2 separate regions of the Homo sapiens genome follow, and region 1 is linked to region 2. The links come from fine-mapping of genetic effects on gene expression. A gene starts in region 2. The other region holds a variant in brackets. All regions are shown on one strand. Distances are between the middles of the regions. Region 1 overlaps GMEB2 (glucocorticoid modulatory element binding protein 2). Region 2 holds the start of STMN3 (stathmin 3).

Region 1 (8,317 bases), 42 kb before region 2:
TGCCCCTCTGACCCCACCTCCATTTCTAGAAACATGCCCCTCTGACCCCACCTCCATTTCTAGAAACATGCCCCTCTGACCCACACATCCATTTCTAGAAACATGCCCCTCTGACCCCACATCCATTTCTAGAAACATGCCCCTCTGACCCACACCTCCATTTCTAGAAACATGCCCCTGTGACCCCACCTCCATTTCTAGAAACATGCCCCTCTGACCCCACATCCATTTCTAGAAACATGCCCCTCTGACCCCACATCCATTTCTAGAAACATGCCCCTCTGACCCACACCTCCATTTCTAGAAACATGCCCCTCTGACCCCACCTCCATTTCTAGAAACATGCCCCTGTGACCTCACCTCCATTTCTAGAAACATGCCCCTCTGACCTCACCTCCATTTCTAGAAACATGCCCCTCTGACCCACACCTCCATTTCTAGAAACATGCCCCTGTGACCTCACCTCCATTTCTAGAAACATGCCCCTCTGACCCCACATCCATTTCTAGAAACATGCCCCTCTGACCCCACATCCATTTCTAGAAACATGCCCCTCTGACCTCACCTCCATTTCTAGAAACATGCCCGTGACCCCACATCCATTTCTAGAAACATGCCCCTCTGACCCCACATCCATTTCTAGAAACATGCCCCTGTGACCTCACCTCCATTTCTAGAAACATGCCCCTCTGACCTCACCTCCATTTCTAGAAACATGCCCCTCTGACCCACACCTCCATTTCTAGAAACATGCCCCTGTGACCTCACCTCCATTTCTAGAAACATGCCCCTCTGACCCCACATCCATTTCTAGAAACATGCCCCTCTGACCCCACATCCATTTCTAGAAACATGCCCCTCTGACCTCACCTCCATTTCTAGAAACATGCCCGTGACCCCACATCCATTTCTAGAAACATGTCCCTCTGACCCCACATCCATTTCTAGAAACATGCCCCTCTGACCCCACCTCCATTTCTAGAAACATGTCCCTCTGACCCCACATCCATTTCTAGAAACATGCCCCTCTGACCCCACCTCCATTTCTAGAAACATGTCCCTCTGACCCCACATCCATTTCTAGAAACATGCCCCTCTGACCTCACCTCCATTTCTAGAAACATGCCCCTGTGACCCCACCTCCATTTCTAGAAACATGTCCCTCTGACCCCACATCCATTTCTAGAAACATGCCCCTCTGACCCCACCTCCATTTCTAGAAACATGTCCCTCTGACCCCACATCCATTTCTAGAAACATGCCCCTCTGACCCCACCTCCATTTCTAGAAACATGCCCCTCTGACCCACACCTCCATTTCTAGAAACATGCCCCTCTGACCCCACATCCATTTCTAGAAACATGCCCCTCTGACCTCACCTCCATTTCTAGAAACATGCCCCTGTGACCCCACCTCCATTTCTAGAAACATGCCCCTCTGACTCACCTCCATTTCTAGAAACATGCCCCTCTGACCCACACCTCCATTTCTAGAAACATGTCCCTCTGACCCACACCTCCATTTCTAGAAACATGCCCCTGACCCCACACCTCCATTTCTAGAAACATGCCCCTCTGACCCACCTCCATTTCCAGAAACATGCCCCTCTGACCCCACACATCCATTTCTAGAAACATGTCCCTCTGACTCACCTCCATTTCTAGAAACATGCCACTCTGACCCCACACATCCATTTCTAGAAACATGCCCCTCTGACCCACCTCCATTTCCAGAAACATGCCCCTCTGACCCCACACATCCATTTCTAGAAACATGTCCCTCTGACTCACCTCCATTTCTAGAAACATGCCACTCTGACCCCACACATCCATTTCTAGAAACATGCCCCTCTGACCTCACCTCCATTTCTAGAAACATGCCCCTCTGACCCCACCTCCATTTCTAGAAACATGCCCCTCTCACCCCACATCCATTTCTAGAAACATGTCCCTCTGACCCCACATCCATTTCTAGAAACATGCCCCTCTGACCCCACCTCCATTTCTAGAAACATGCCCCTCTGACCTCACCTCCATTTCTAGAAACATGCCCCTCTGACCCACCTCCATTTCTAGAAACATGCCCCTCTCACCCCACATCCATTTCTAGAAACATGCCCCTCTGACCCACCTCCATTTCTAGAAACATGCCCCTCTGACCCACCTCCATTTCTAGAAACATGCCCCTCTGACCCACACCTCCATTTCTAGAAACATGTCCCTCTGACCCCACCTCCATTTCTAGAAACATGCCCCTCTGACCCCACCTCCATTTCTAGAAACATGCCCCTCTGACCCACACCTCCATTTCTAGAAACATGCCCCTCTGACCTCACCTCCATTTCTAGAAACATGCCCCTCTGACCCACACATCCATTTCTAGAAACATGCCCCTCTGACCCCACCTCCATTTCTAGAAACATGCCCCTCTGACCCCACCTCCATTTCTAGAAACATGCCCCTCTGACTCCACCTCCATTTCTAGAAATTAATCCTGCAGACATGGTGTTCCCACACTGGCATGAGGGTTGTCTGAAACAGGGAACAAGTCTCCAGTTTCTGGAACCCGTGCGGGCAGCTGCCTCTGGGGAGATGATGTGGAGAAGCTGGGAGAGGTCTGGGTGGGGTTCCCAGCTGTGCACCTCATAACAGCCAACTGTATGATGTGTGCACTTCTAAACTTCCAGAAGTTTGCTTAAAAACACACGCACACCAGCCGGGCACGGTGGCTCACACCTGTAATCCCAGCACTTTGGGAGGCCGAGGCAGGCGGATCACAAGGTCAGGAGATCGAGACCATCCTGGCTAACACGGTGAAACCCCGTCTCTACTAAAAATACAAAAAATTAGCCGGGCGTGGTGGCGGGCGCCTGTAGGCCCAGCTACTCAGGAGGCTGAGGCAAGAGAATGGCGTGAACCCGGGAGGTGGAGGTTACAGTGAGCCGAGATCGCGCCATTGCACTCCAGTCTGGGCGACAGAGTGAGAATCTGTCTCAAAAAAAGAAAACAAAACAAAAAAAACATGTAGCAAGAGGAAGTCTCAATTTCCAGATGGTAGAAGAACAGATTTAATTCCCCACAAAAAAGAAGAGGATCTTTAAGTCCTTCAAGACAGCCCTGCCTCAGCTGCCACGTGGGGTTCTCTTCTCAGAGAAGAAGGCGCATGCAGACTCTCCACTGCTCCATAAGCCACTGTCCCGCGAGGGCAGAGCCTTGGCGTCCTGGCAAAGCAACTGCAGACTGAAAAATGCCCTCTGGTCCTTCATGGCTCCCTCCATCAAGACAGGGGGCTATTTCCCACCCCCTCCACTTGACTTTGGGCCAAGCTTTGAAGAGCTTTGACCAAGAGGCTGTGACGAGGCCCTACGAGGACTCTGGCTCTCCTCCTGCTAAGCACACCCAGGCAGGTGTCCTGGCAGATGAGGACCACATGCAGAGCCTCGGCCAGCCCACCAATGCCCGGATATGCAAGTGAGCCCAGCCTGGACCCCCCGGCGAGGCCCAGCAGCACCAGCCCAGGCCCGAAAACCTTAAGAAATGACCAGTGTCTGCTGCTTTAAGCCACCAAGCTCTGCGGTGGTTTGTTAGGCTGCAAGCATGGCTAATTCAGAAACTGCCAGAAACAAGCACTGCTGTCCCCAGCCTGGGACACACAGCACCGCCTCTGCGTGGGGAGAGGGCACAGGCTAAGGGCACAAATGCCATCCCAGACCCGGCTCTTGTGTGTGGAAGGGGCCACTGTGCCATGAGGCAGAGGAAACCTTGGCAGGACCTTATGCCACAGCAATTTAAAAGAGAAGAAACAGGCTGGGCGTGGTGGCTCATGCCTATAATCCCAGCACTTTGGGAGGCCAAGGTGGTGGATCACTTGAGGTCAGGAGTTCAAGACCAGCCTGGCCAATATGGTGAAACCCTGTCTCTACGAAAAATACAAAATTTAGGCAGGCGTGGTGGCGGGTGCCTGTAATCCCTGCTATTCAGGAGGCTGAGGCAAGAGATTTACTTGAACCCGGGAGGTGGAGGCTGCTGCAGTGAGCTGAGATCATGCCACTGCACTCCAGCCTGTGTGACGGAGTGAGACTTGGTCTCAAAAAAAAAAAAGGAAACACATCTGACTAGTGTGATCTCGCAAGGAACATTCCAGACACAGTGGAGCTAGAAGGTTCTTCTCCAAACAAGGAATCCCCAGGGGATCAAATTGTTTTGCATCGGCCAGACATGGTGGCTCAAGCCTGTAACCCCAGTGCTTCGGGAGGCTGAGGTGGGAGGACTGCTTGAGTCCAGGAGTTCAAGACTAGCTTGGGCAACACAGTGAGAGCCCATTAGCCAGGCGTGGTGGCACATGCCTGCAGTCCCAGCACTGTACTAAAAATCTACACGGGGCCGGGCATGGTGGCACATGCCTGTAGAGTCCCAGCTACTCAGGAGGCTGAGGCAGGACGATTCCTTGAACCCAGGAGGTCACGGCTGCCATGAGCCGTGACTGTGCCACTGCACTCCAGTCTGTGCAACAGAACGAGACTCTGTTTCGAAAAACAAAAAATCATTTCATGTCTCCAGTTTCTCCACTGGCAAAAGACTCTGTCAAGGTAAAAAATGGTTCTGACCCACAGAAATCTAAGAAAGGAAAAAATATAAAAAATAGAAAATTTAAAAAAGAGATGGTCTCAGAATAAAGACCAACCTGGGCTATGGTTGTCACTCTTCCCTCACACCTTAGAAAGCTTTCTGGCCGCATCTGGCCAAAGGGCCACCCTGCCCCATCTTGGATCAGTGAGGTGCCTTCGAACAAGCCACCTGCCCTGGAGCCCGTCCTGTCTTGTCTGCCACCGCACGCTCAGTAGGGGAGGGGAAGTCGCTAGGTTTTAGTTCACCAGTCTCTGGATCAAGACGTGCCATAACCAAGAAGCCCCAGCCACACCCAGACCCGA[C/T]GTGGCCACAAGGGGTGAGCTGGGAAGGCCCAGGAAAAGGCGGGAGGCGGACGAATGGAAATGTCATTCTGTGGCCACAGAAATGATCTCAACGTTTTGTAACTTCCTACCAAGAGGCAGTCTTAGCTCTGCCCTTGAACCAGCACTTGGTGATGTCGCTTGCGTCAATCAAGGCAACAGAAGTGAGCAGGAGGCCCACTTTCCTCTGCAACTGTGGGCTTACGGGGCAAAGAAGTCCAGGCCTCCAGGTGGAGGATCACAGACCGGGCAAAGCAGAGGAGAGCCACCCAGCCGAGCCTACCTGTGCCTCAGACTGCCTCCCTCCAGAGACCCCTGTGGCCAAGGCCACCCAGACCAGCAGGTCCTTGCCAAGCTGTCAGCTGACGACAGGGGTTGGTGAGGCCGGCCCAGACCAGCAGAACCACGAACCAACCAACAGAATTAAAAATAATAACAACTATGTCTTGTCTTAAGCCACTAAGTTTTGGATGGTTTCTTTCTTTCTTTTTCTTTTTTTTTTTCGGAGACGCAGTCTCACTCTGTTGCCCAGGCTGGAGTGCAGTGGCGCAATCTTGGCTCACTGCAAGCTCTGCCCCCCGGATTCACGCCATTCCCCTGCCTCAGCCTCCTGAGTAACTGGGACTACAGGTGCCTGCCATTGGGTGTTTTCTTAAACAGCAAAAGAAAACTGACACAATCATAAACAGAGCAAGCAAGAGAACTTGGCAATTATTTCCTCTCTACTTCTCACTGTTCTTCAAAGAGTTAACTCAAGCATAAGATGTGAGCAAATTCTTTTAACATCCTAGAAAAAAAGCTCCTACTCAGTGTTCATAAAGCAAAGCTAACCTACAGGAGCCACCTTCCACAGTGACCACAGGAAACCAAGACAGCAAGTGGGACACCAGCCTCCAGGGCACTGCGCCAGCCGTGCGCCTGTGTCTGCCACTGCCCTGGTCCGTCACTGCCACCAGCCGGCAAGACACCCACAGAGGAGAGCTCTAAGCCACAACTGTGTACGAAGACAACTGTGCAGGATTTTATTACTACAACATTTTTGTTTTCTTTTTTTTTTTTTTTTGAGACTGAGTCTCGCTCTGTCACCCAGGCTGGAGTGCAGTGGCACAATCTCGGCTCACTGTAACCTCCATCTCCCTGGTTCAAGCAATTCTCCTGCTGCAGCCTCCCAACTGGATTACAGGCGCCCGCCACCACGCCTGGCTAATTTTTGTACTTTTAGTAGAGACGGGGTTTCACCATGTTGGCCAGACTGGTCTCAAATTCCTGACAAGTGATCCACCCACCCTGGCCTCCCAAAGTGCTGGGATTACAGGTGTGAGCCACTGCGCCTGGCCCATTTTTGTTTATCAATAAAAATGTACTTAATGTTGAACTCTCCACATTTCAAATGGGTAACTCCAGTGTCCTTGATGCTCCTGCGACATGTTCGTGAGACTTCTCTTGGGTGTGAGAGTCTAGCATGTGGGTGGTCTGGACAGGAGGGGGAGGGAAGAGTGCAGAGCAGGGCAGGGTAAAGAGACCCCCTAGGATGTGAAGGCCGCCCTGCATTTGTCAGACTGGGCAACACCCACTCCATCAGATGGACCCTGGTATGGGCGGCAAGCCACCTAGGTGCCGAGGCAAGAGACCGAGGGCACGAGCTGTTCCGGTGTAATAAAATGCATAAAATAAGAATAGTTATACTAGATATAGATCATAAATATGATTATATATGAATATCATTCATCATTAGTTTGTAGCAATTACTCTTTATTCCAATATTATAATAATCCTTGCCTAAGCATAACCTAGGAAAAACTAGGAAATCATAACCTAGGAAAAACTAGGCCATACAGAGATAGGAGCTGAGGGGACATAGTGAGAACTGACCAGAAGACAAGAGTGCGAGCCTTCTGTTATGCCTGGACAGGGCCACCAGAGGGCTCCTTGGTCTAGCGGTAACGCCAGCATCTGGGAAGACGCCCGTTGCCAAGTGGACCGTGGTCTAGCGGTAGCCTCAGTGTCAAGGAAAAACACCCGCTACTTAGCAAACCAGGAAAGAGAGTCTCCCTTTCCCCGGGGGAGTTTAGAGAAGACTCTACTCCTCCACCTCTTGCGGAGGGCCTGACATCAGTCAGGCCCGCCCGCAGTTATCCGGAGGCCTAACCGTCTCCCTGTGATGCTGTGCTTCAGTGGTCACGCTCCTAGTCCGCCTTCATGTTCCATCCTGTGCACCTGGCTCTGCCTTCTAGATAGCAGCAGCAAATTAGTGAAAGTACTGAAAGTCTCTGATAAGCAGAAATAATGGCGTAAGCGGTCTCTCTCTCTCTCTCCTCTCTCTCTGCCTCAGCTGCCAGGAAGGGAAGGGCCCCCTGGCCAGTGGGCACGTGACCCACATGACCTTACCTATCACTGGACATGGTTCACACTCCTTACCCTGCCGCTTTGTCTTGTATCCAATAAATAGCGCAACCTGGCATTCGGGGCCGCTACCAGTCTCCGCGTCTTGGTGGTAGTGGTCCCCCAGGCCCAGCTGTCTTTTTCTTTTATCTTTGTCTTGTGTCTTTATTTCTACACTCTCTCATCTCCGCATACGAGGAGAAAACCCACCAACCCTGTGGGGCTGGTCCCTACACCCTGGCTTTGTAGACTGGAGCCTAGGCACGACTCAGCTGCTGTAGTGAATTGCGATCCTCCAAACCCAGCAAGGCACCTGCAGGACATCTGGCCCAGTCTCCTCGTTGAGCCAGTTCACGAAAAAGAGACTTTTCTGAGTGACATGCTAATGGGCAATATGAGGACTAAATGGGATGGTCTCCAACTTGGACAAACCAACAGTAAAAGCCACTTTGCGGGGAAAGAAACTTTTCCTTTTTTCTTTTTTTTGAGACAGGATCTCACCCTGTCACCCAGGCTGCAGTGCAGTGGCATGACCTTGGCTCACTGCAGCCTCAACCTCTCTCAGGCTCAAGCAATCCTCCCGCCTCAACCTCCCATGCAGCTGGGACCATAGGTGCATGCCACCACACCCAAATAATTTTTATATTTTTTGTAGAGACGAGGTTTCACTATGTTGCTCGGGCTGGTCTCAACTCCTGGGCTCAAGCAACCCTCCCACCTCAGCCTCCCAAAGTGCTCAGATTACAGGCAGGAGCCACCAGGCCTGGCCAACATAGGAAGAAATTTAAATTTGAATTGAATATTAGAAGAGATGAAAATTCATCAACATGGAAAGACAAAGATCATTAACTAAAGCCAAACCAGAATGGAAGCTGTGTGTACAGTGGGGTCTCATGCTGGGAACGCGAGGGGCACGTGCAGGGCTCCACGGTGTGGCGACGCCCCATGCTCCCTTTGTGGGGGTTCATCCAGCGGAACATGAGGACC
Region 2 (8,296 bases):
CTCACTCTGTCTCCCAGGCTGGAGTGCAGTGGTACAATCTCGGCTCACGGCAAGCTCCGCCTCCCGGATTCACGCCATTCTCCTGCCTCAGCCTCCCGAATAGCTGGGACTACAGGCGCCCGCCACCACGCCCAGCTAATTTTTTGTATTTTTAGTAGAGACGGGGTTTCACTGTGTTAGCCAGGATGGTCTCGATCTCCTGACCTTGTGATCCGCCCGTCTCAGCCTCCCAAAGTGCTGGGATTACAGGTGTGAGCCACCGCGCCTGGACTTTTTTTTTTTTTTTAAGACGGGGTCTCACTCTGTCACCCAGGCTGGAGTGCAGTGGCGCGATGTCGGCTCACTGCAACCTCTGCCTCCCCAGTTCAAGTGATTCTCCTGCCTCAGCCTCCCAAGTAGCTAGAATTACAGGCACATGCCACCATGCCCAGCTAATTTTCTGTATTTTTAGTAGAGATGAGGTTTCACCATGTTGGCCAGGCTGGTCTTGAACTCCTGACCTCCGGTGATCTGCCCACCTCAGCCTCCCAAAGTGCTGGGATGACAGGCGTGAGCCCCCGCGCCTGGCCCCCCGCAGTGCTGGGATTACAGGCGTGAGCCCCCGCGCCCGGCCCCTCCCTCTCTTTGACTCCCTTCTTTCTCACCGCCCCCTCCCCACCATCCTTCCCCTTCACTGACTTCAGGGAGTTAAAAACAATTCTCGCAGTGAGCTGGGCTTGTTTTGTCTCCCTGCTTCTCTTTGTACTAAACATTAGATACCGAGGAAATGCGGATTGGCCTTTGGATGATTCATGAGCAGGAGTCAGAAAAAGGCACCAGGTTGGCCTCAAGCAGCAGGGTATAGTAGTGCCCGCTCCCAGGGTCACACCTCACGCCCACCCCTCCCGCCGTCCAGGTGGATGGTGCCCACTCCCAGGGTCACACCTCACGCCCACCCCTCCCGCCGTCCAGGTGGATGGTGCCCACTCCCAGGGTCACACCTCACGCCCACCCCTCCCGTCGCCCAGGTGGATGGTGCCCACTCCCAGGGTCACACCTCACGCCCGCCCCTCCCACCCACCCGGGTGGATGGTGCCCGCTCCCAGGGTCACACCTGACGCCCACCCGGGTGGATGGTGCCCGCTCCCAGGGTCACACCTCACGCCCACCCCTCCCGCCCGCCCGGGTGGATGGTGCCCGCTCCCAGGGTCACACCTCACGCCCACCCCTCCCGCCGTCCAGGTGGATGGTGCCCACTCCCAGGGTCACACCTCACGCCCACCCCTCCCGCCGCCCAGGTGGATGGTGCCCACTCCCAGGGTCACACCTCACACCCACCCCTCCCGCCCACCCGGGTGGATGCCCTTATCAGCTCTCCTTCTCCTTCTCTTTCGTCTTCTTCGTCTTCCTCCTCTTCTTTCTTCTTTTTTTTTTTTTTTAGAAAGAGTTTCTACTCTTGCTGCCCAGGCTGGAGTGCAATGGCACAATCTCAGCTCACTGCAACCTCCCTCTCCCCGGGTCAAGCAATTATCCTGCCTCAGTCTCCCAGATTGCTGGGATCACAGGAGTGTGTCACCACACCTGGCTAATTTTGTACTTTTAGCAGAGAGGGGGGATTTCACCATGTTGGCCAGGCTAGTCTCGAACTCTTGACCTCAGTTTATCCACCGGCCTCAGCCTCTCAAAGTGCTGGGATTACAGGCATGAGCCACCCTATCTGCCTCACTTCTACAGAGGAGGAATGAAGGCTCAGAGAGGGCAAGCATTCCACCCAGCATCACACAGAGTGCCGGGTGAGAGCCCAGTCATGAGCCTGGGCCTGACTGCAGGCTCCTGTTGGGAGCTCGCGGAGGTGGGGGATCTGTCCAGAACTGAGAGGCCAGGGGACCACAGTGGCCTCTGACCCCTGGAGGGCCCTGGAGGCTGCTGCCGGCTCCCCCCGGGGGCAGATGGAGGTCACTGTCACCCAGGCTGCTTCTCATGGTGCCAGGAGCACAGCATGGCAGGAGCCACCAGCCGATTTGCCTTTCCCTGGGCAGGAAACTCAGAAATGTGGCTACCACAGTCAGGCTGCTTGACGTGCGGTGAGCACTCATCTCTTAGCAGGCAAGCGGCCAAGCACCTTTCCTGAAATATTGAGGCCTCAGAACAAGCCCCAGGAGAGGTGCCAGCACCGTCATCTCTACCCAGATAAGGAGACCCAGGTCCTGAGAGGTTAGGCAGCTCGGACAACACCACACAGCTGGAGGAGGTCAGACTCTGGGTTGCAGAAGGAGAATGTGAGCAGAGGCCACAAAAGAGCGAGGAGCCAGTGCCCAGATGCCGAGATGCCCTCGCCCTCCCAGCTCAGCCCCAGGAACCGAGCCCATGGGGAGGGACCGTCAGGGAAAGGCTGTCAGGAAGGGCAGGAGGCGGCCCTGGAGAGGACGGCGCTGCCCTCAGGGGCAGGAGGGGAGTCCCCTCCGCTGAGAGCCCCCCCACCCCCAGTATCCCCGGGGGTGTCCAGGAGGAGGCGGAGGGAGGAAGCGCAGATGGACAGGACTCCCAGATAGGGTGGGGAGGTGTGGCCGGTGACACACACGGTCCCCTCCTGGCAGGTGCTGAAGTCACCTGGAGCCTCCAAGCCCGTGGGGCCTGAGGGGCGGGGTCAGGTCGGGCACGCGTGGGTGGGCGGAGTTCTGCGCCCCGGGCCAAGGCGCCCGAGTTGAACCAGTCAGCTCGGGAGAGGGACCGCGGCGACCTGTCCCGGGGGCGTAAGAAAAGGTGGGAGGGAGTGCGGCTCGTGAACGGGGGCGGCGATGGGAAGGAGGTGCGGCCCTTCGTCCTGTCCTCCCAAACGTCGAGTGAAAAACGAAGCGGGTTCTGCGGCCTCGCGGCGGAGCAGAGCGTTTCGGGAAGGGCGGGCCCAGCGTCCTCGCGCCCGAGGTCGCCCGGCAGCTCCCCTGCGTCCAGAATCCGCCCCCCGCCCGGGCCTGCGCCCGCCCCTCCGCCTGAGCTCCGCGCGGGACGGGCCGGGAGGCCGGGGTGGGCGCTACCTTCGAAGGCGGTGGGTCCGCCCCGCGGGAGGTGGAGGGGCGGGAGGGGCGGAGCCCTCTGGTCTCCGGAGGGTTTGGGGATCGCAGTCGCCCCTCCCCCATCCAGACCCCGCGGCGCAAAGGGCAGTGGCTTTTCTGGCCAGAGCAGGTGGCGCGGGCGTCGCAAAGGGTGGTCCCCGAGGCCGCAGCGGTGTGGGGGGAGGGCGCGGTCCCCCTCACTCCGGGCTCCGCCGTGTCTGGCCCGCCCCCCTCCTTCAGCGCCCCCTCCAGCCCCTGTGCTGCACTGGCGCGGGGAGCGCCGGGTTCCCGGCTGGGGCTTTGGCAGAGGGTCCCACCCTCTCCCCGCCTCCCCACGAAGGCTCTGGCGGACCCAGATCTCGGGTCGCCGGACGCCCCAGGGACCCCGCCCGCACATCGCGAGCGCGCCCACCCGGTCGCGAGCCCACGCCCGGGTCTGGGAGCCACCCTGCGGCAGTCGCGCCCTGCGTGGCACGCTGCTCCCCCAGGGGCGAGGCGCCCCCGCCCGACGTCCCGGTCCCGAGCGCTCCCCGGCGCGGCGCCTCGCAGCCCAGCGCCCCACCAGCCCCGCCGGCGCCGCAGACCCCAGCCTCGGGCGGGTCGGGCCCAGGCTTGCAACGCGCAGGGTAGGAGAAGGGAAATTGGCGTCCGCTGCCGGCCGCTGCCCCAGGCGAGGCCAGACGAGGCCTCTGCTCAGATCCCGCCGCCCCACAAAGCCCGTGGCCCCGGAGCCTACCGGAAATGGTGCTGGCCATGGTGCTGGCGGCGGTTGGGCCTGCGGAGGCTGGAGAGGCGCAAGTGGCGGCCGGAGCTGCAGACGGCTGGTGCTGCAGTGCCGGGGAGGGGAGGGGAGAGGAGTGGAGGGAGCGAGGGCGGGCGGGAGGCGGGCGCGGCGGGAGAGAGAGAGGGAGGGAGACAGAGGGAGAGAGAGAGAGGGTTGGGGGAAGGAGCGGGGGGAGGAGGGAGGGAGGGTTGGGGGAAGGAGAGAGAGAGAGAGAGAGACTGCGGGGGCGGGGGAAGGAGGGAGGGAGGAAGGGAGGGAGGAAGAGAGAGAGGAGCAAGCGCCTGGCTGCGGAAGGGGCCGCGGCTCTCAGGGGGAGAGGGCGGAGGAGGGGGGCTACCCGAACTGCAACAAGACCCCCCACCCTCCAACCGCTCACAGCGGGACAGCTGCTTCTCCAACTTGGCTTTGTGAGGCCTGAGAGTGGGGTGGGGGTGGAGATGAGCCCCCATTCCCCAGGGCAGGCGGGGCAGGGGCAATGCCGGAGGAGCAGGTCCCACCCATGGGGTGGGGCCGCAGAGCTCTTCGCCGCCAAGGCCGCTGTAGGCTGGGCTGGCGCCAACAGGGTCCAGGTCTGTGCCTGCCATCGGAGAGGATGCCACAGCCACAGGGGTGGGCGCTGGCCTGGAGGCCTCCAAGGGGCATCTCCTGTGAGCCCAGGGGATGGGCAGGATCTGAGCGGAGAAGAGTGAAAGTGGAGGAGTGAGGCCAGAACAAAGGCTTTGCCGTGAAAGAGGTGGTTTCCCGCCTGGGCTCAGACCTTCACTCACTGTGTGGCCCAGGCCAAGGGCAAGCGTCTGACCTCGCTGGGCCTTTGTTTCTCAGGGGTAAGATGAAACAATGATGCCCCCAGACGATGGAGAGGAGGGGTGCCAGGGTTGTGCGCACTTAGTGAGTGGGGGGCAACCTATCCTGCCTCCCCCTCTCCTCATAACTCCCAAAGGGAAAGCCTGGTAGGCAAACGGAGCGTCTTTGCCATTGCAGGGATGAAGCCACCGAGGCAGGGAGAAAAGTGCTTTGCCCTACAAGCAACTAAGTCATAGGGCCAGGAGCAAAACCCTGAAAACCTCAGGAGACTTGCAGAGCCATGAGGCTGGCTCAGCAACACAAAAGCCAGGGGCAAGCCTCAGCTCTAGCAGTGCGGTGGGAGCACCCAAGGCCAGTCACATCCTAGGGTGGCCTGGAGAGTCCTGACCCCTGACGTGCAAGCCGGCATCATCCCCGGGACTGTGAGTCTGGTGGGGGTGATGCCCAGGAATGTGACATTGTGTGGCCCAGAGGTACCCTTAAGACTGGAGGATCACCAGGCGGGCCCTGACCTCATCACAGGAGCCCTTTAAAAGCAGTTTCCTTTGCCTGGTTGAAGAAATCGGAGGGATCAAACCAAAGAAGGTTTTCTGTTGTTGAGATGAGGGGGCCACGTGGCAAGGATCTGAGAACTGCTCCCAGCCAACAGCCAGCAAGACAACAAGACCTTAACTGCAAGGAAGTGAGTTCTGCCAACAAGAAGAGAATGGGCTTGGAGGCAGGTTTGACCCCAGGGCCTCCACACAAGAACTGAGCCCAACTGCCCACTTGGTTTCAGCCTTGGGTTACTAAGAATTAGGAGGTAATGAATGAGAGTTGTTTTAAGCTGTTGGTTTTGTGGTGATTTGCTATGAAGCCATATCAAACTAATATACACACAGAGGTGTTGGCCCCTGGGCCATTCCTAGGAAGCCAGCTCTGCGAAGGAGGAAGAAGGGCAGAGAGGCACACAGAGCTGCCCACCACAGCAGCTGTGTCCTCCCTGTTGGCCACCACAGTAGCAGTTGGGGATGGTCAGCATCCTTCAGGCAGACTCCAGCCCCGGGTGCTGGAGCTCAGGTGCTAGGGATCAAGAGAAGTAGCCCTCTCTGGGACCTCCAGAGTCTTCTCATGTGGGTGGGGTAGGACCCACCCAGTCAGGCTCAGAGCACCGCAATGCCTCACACTCATTGTGACTCTGGCCAGGCCCTCTCTGAGCCTCTGTGTCCTCATCTGGAGCACAGGGACCAGGTGTGTGGAAGCCCGTGGCATAGTGCCAGGAACACAGTAGATGTGCACAGTGTGCACTAGCAGGAACACACAACAGGGGTACTGACTGTCAGCACCTAGGCAGGCACACGCAATGGGGTACTGACTGTCAGCCATACTGACTGTCAGCGTGCTAGCAGGCATACACAACAGCTGTACTGACAGCACACTAGCAGGCACATGCCATAGGTGTACTGACTCTCAGTGCACTGGCAGGCACACGCAATAGGAGTAATGACAGCATGCTGGCAGGCACACAATAGCTGTACTGACTGTTTGCCCCAATATAGTGCCAGGTCTTGGAGCAGATTTTGACTTCTCACCAAGATCAAATGCAGAAAGTGCACGAGCATTTCAAAGATGTTTTTCACATGCACATTAGTGCTAGTTAAAAAAATGTTTTGACTGGGTGCAGTGGCTCACAACTGTAATCCCAACACTTTGGGGGGCCGAGGTGGGCAGATCACCTGAGGTCAGGAGTTTGAGACCAGCCTGGCCAACATGGTGAAACCCCATCTACCCTAAAAATACAAAAATTAGCCAGGTGTGGTGGCAGGTGCCTGTAATCTCAGCTACTTTGGAGGCTGAAGCAGGAGAATCACTTGAATCCAGGAGGCAGAGGTTGCAGTGAGCCGAGATCCCACCACTGCACTCCAGCCTGGGCAACAATATCAAGACTCCACCTCAAAAAAAAAAATGTTTTTCATAAAGTGTGACTTTTATCAGACCTCTGCATTCTTGAAATTAACTCTGGCTTGGCTGGGCGTGGTGGCCCACACCTGTAATCTTAACACTTTGGGAGGCTGAGGTGGGCAGATCACGAGGTCAGGAGTTCAAGACCAGCCTGACCAACATGATGAAACCCCATCTCTACTAAAAATACAAAAATTAGCCGGGCGTGGTGGCATGCACCTGTAATCCCAGCTACTCAGGAGGCTGAGGCAGGAGAATCGCTTGAACCCAGGAGGTGGAGGTTGCAGGGAGCCGAGATCGCACCACTCTATTCCAGCCTGGGCGACAGAGCAAGACTCTGTCTCAAAAAAAAAAAAGAAAGAAAGAAATTAACTCTGGCTCCTAGAAGGAGCCCTATATCTCAGCAGGACACTCAGTCATTCAACAGACATCTGTCAAGCACCTGCTGTATGCTGGAGCTGTGGGTACGTCAGCAATTAGAGGAAGAGGGCAGGGGTACAGGAGTTCCTGACCACCCCAGGCCAGCACGCTCCTATAGCAGCTGGCAAGGAGCAGATGACTCAGACTTCAGCTCAGTCCACAGGACAGCCTTTTCTGGCCACTGCTCTCAGGAGATGAGATGTGTGGCTGCAAAAGGTAAACTCCTGGCTCCTGAGCAGGCTCTGGGCAATCTGCTCAACGCTCTGTGCCTCACTTTCTCACCCAGAAAGTGTGGACAATGAGAGGACTTATCTGGCTGGGCGCGGTGGCTCACGCCTGTAATCCCAGCACTTTGGGAGGCCGAGGCGGGTGGATCACCTGAGGTCAGGAGTTCAAGACCTGCCTGGCCAACACGGTCAAACTCCATCTCTACTAAAAATATAAAAAATTAGCCGGGCTTAGTGGTGCACACCTGTAATCCCAGCTACTTGAGAGGCTGAGGCAGGAGAATCACTTGAACCCAGGAGGTGGAGGTTGCAGTGAGCCAAGATTGTGCCACTGCACTCCAGCCTGGGCAAAAAGCCAAAACTCTGTCTCAAAGAAAAAAGAATCATGGCAGAAGGTGAAGTCTATGTTAGTCCCAGTTCCCAGGTCGTACATGGCGGCAGGAGAAAGAGAGAGAGAAGGGGAAACTGCCACTTTTAAACCATCGGGTCTCCTGAGCACTCACTGTCAGAACAGCCTGGAGGAAACTGACCGCATGATCCAACCACCTCCCTCCAGGTCCCTCCCTCCACACGTGGGGATTACAATTCGAGGTGAGACTTGGGTGGAGACACAGAGCCGAACCATATCAGCATGTATGGGGGGCACTGAAACTTGTGCTTGGTGCCCATTCATTCAACGAGTGTGTGTGGCTGGTCTCCTCATCTTCAACTCCCTGCCGAGTCTCAGATAGGCAGCCTGCAGTTCCTTCACCACAACAGGCACATGGGGCTGGGTGCCAGTGAGTGCTGGGGCTTCTCCGAGCACTATCTCACACCCAGGAGCGTGGGCACGCATGGCATTCGCATGTGCCGTCAGTGGACATTAAACACAGCCATGAAGAAGCCACGAAGAAGTGCTGCCTGCCGGCCGTGCGCGGTCACGCAGCGCCAACTCCCTCCTGGGGCCTTCTGGGGCCTTCTGGGGCATGGGAGCTGGGGCCGCCTGAGACAAACATCCGTGACGCTGGGCTGACCCCACAGAACGGTGCGGGCCTCGCTCTTGGAGTCAGCCCTGCTGCCAGCCAGTGCCGGGTGCTGGGGACTCAGGG

Evidence for each region.
Region 1: its variant is fine-mapped to the expression of STMN3 in blood mononuclear cells (TOPMed, PIP 0.93).

Annotation. Positions count from the first base shown.
Region 1 is chr20:63,607,527-63,615,843 of GRCh38, forward strand. The region is part of intron 2 of GMEB2 (glucocorticoid modulatory element binding protein 2); the gene reads right to left. Among named protein-coding and RNA genes, the nearest start is that of GMEB2, 15 kb to the right of the region's middle. RefSeq lists enhancers at 2,967-3,136, 6,433-6,602. The variant C/T (reference allele first, on the strand shown) is at 4,931.
Region 2 is chr20:63,649,559-63,657,854 of GRCh38, forward strand. It overlaps STMN3 (stathmin 3), which reads right to left and starts at 3,866. Exons shown (of 5, transcript NM_015894.4): 1 at 3,769-3,866. The coding sequence starts at 3,787. It overlaps RTEL1-TNFRSF6B (RTEL1-TNFRSF6B readthrough (NMD candidate)), which reads left to right and starts at 8,252. Exons shown (of 38, transcript NR_037882.1): 1 at 8,252-8,296. It also overlaps a transcript of RTEL1 not described here. RefSeq lists enhancers at 1,999-2,569, 3,846-4,525, 4,526-5,204 and silencers at 3,544-3,633, 3,654-3,703.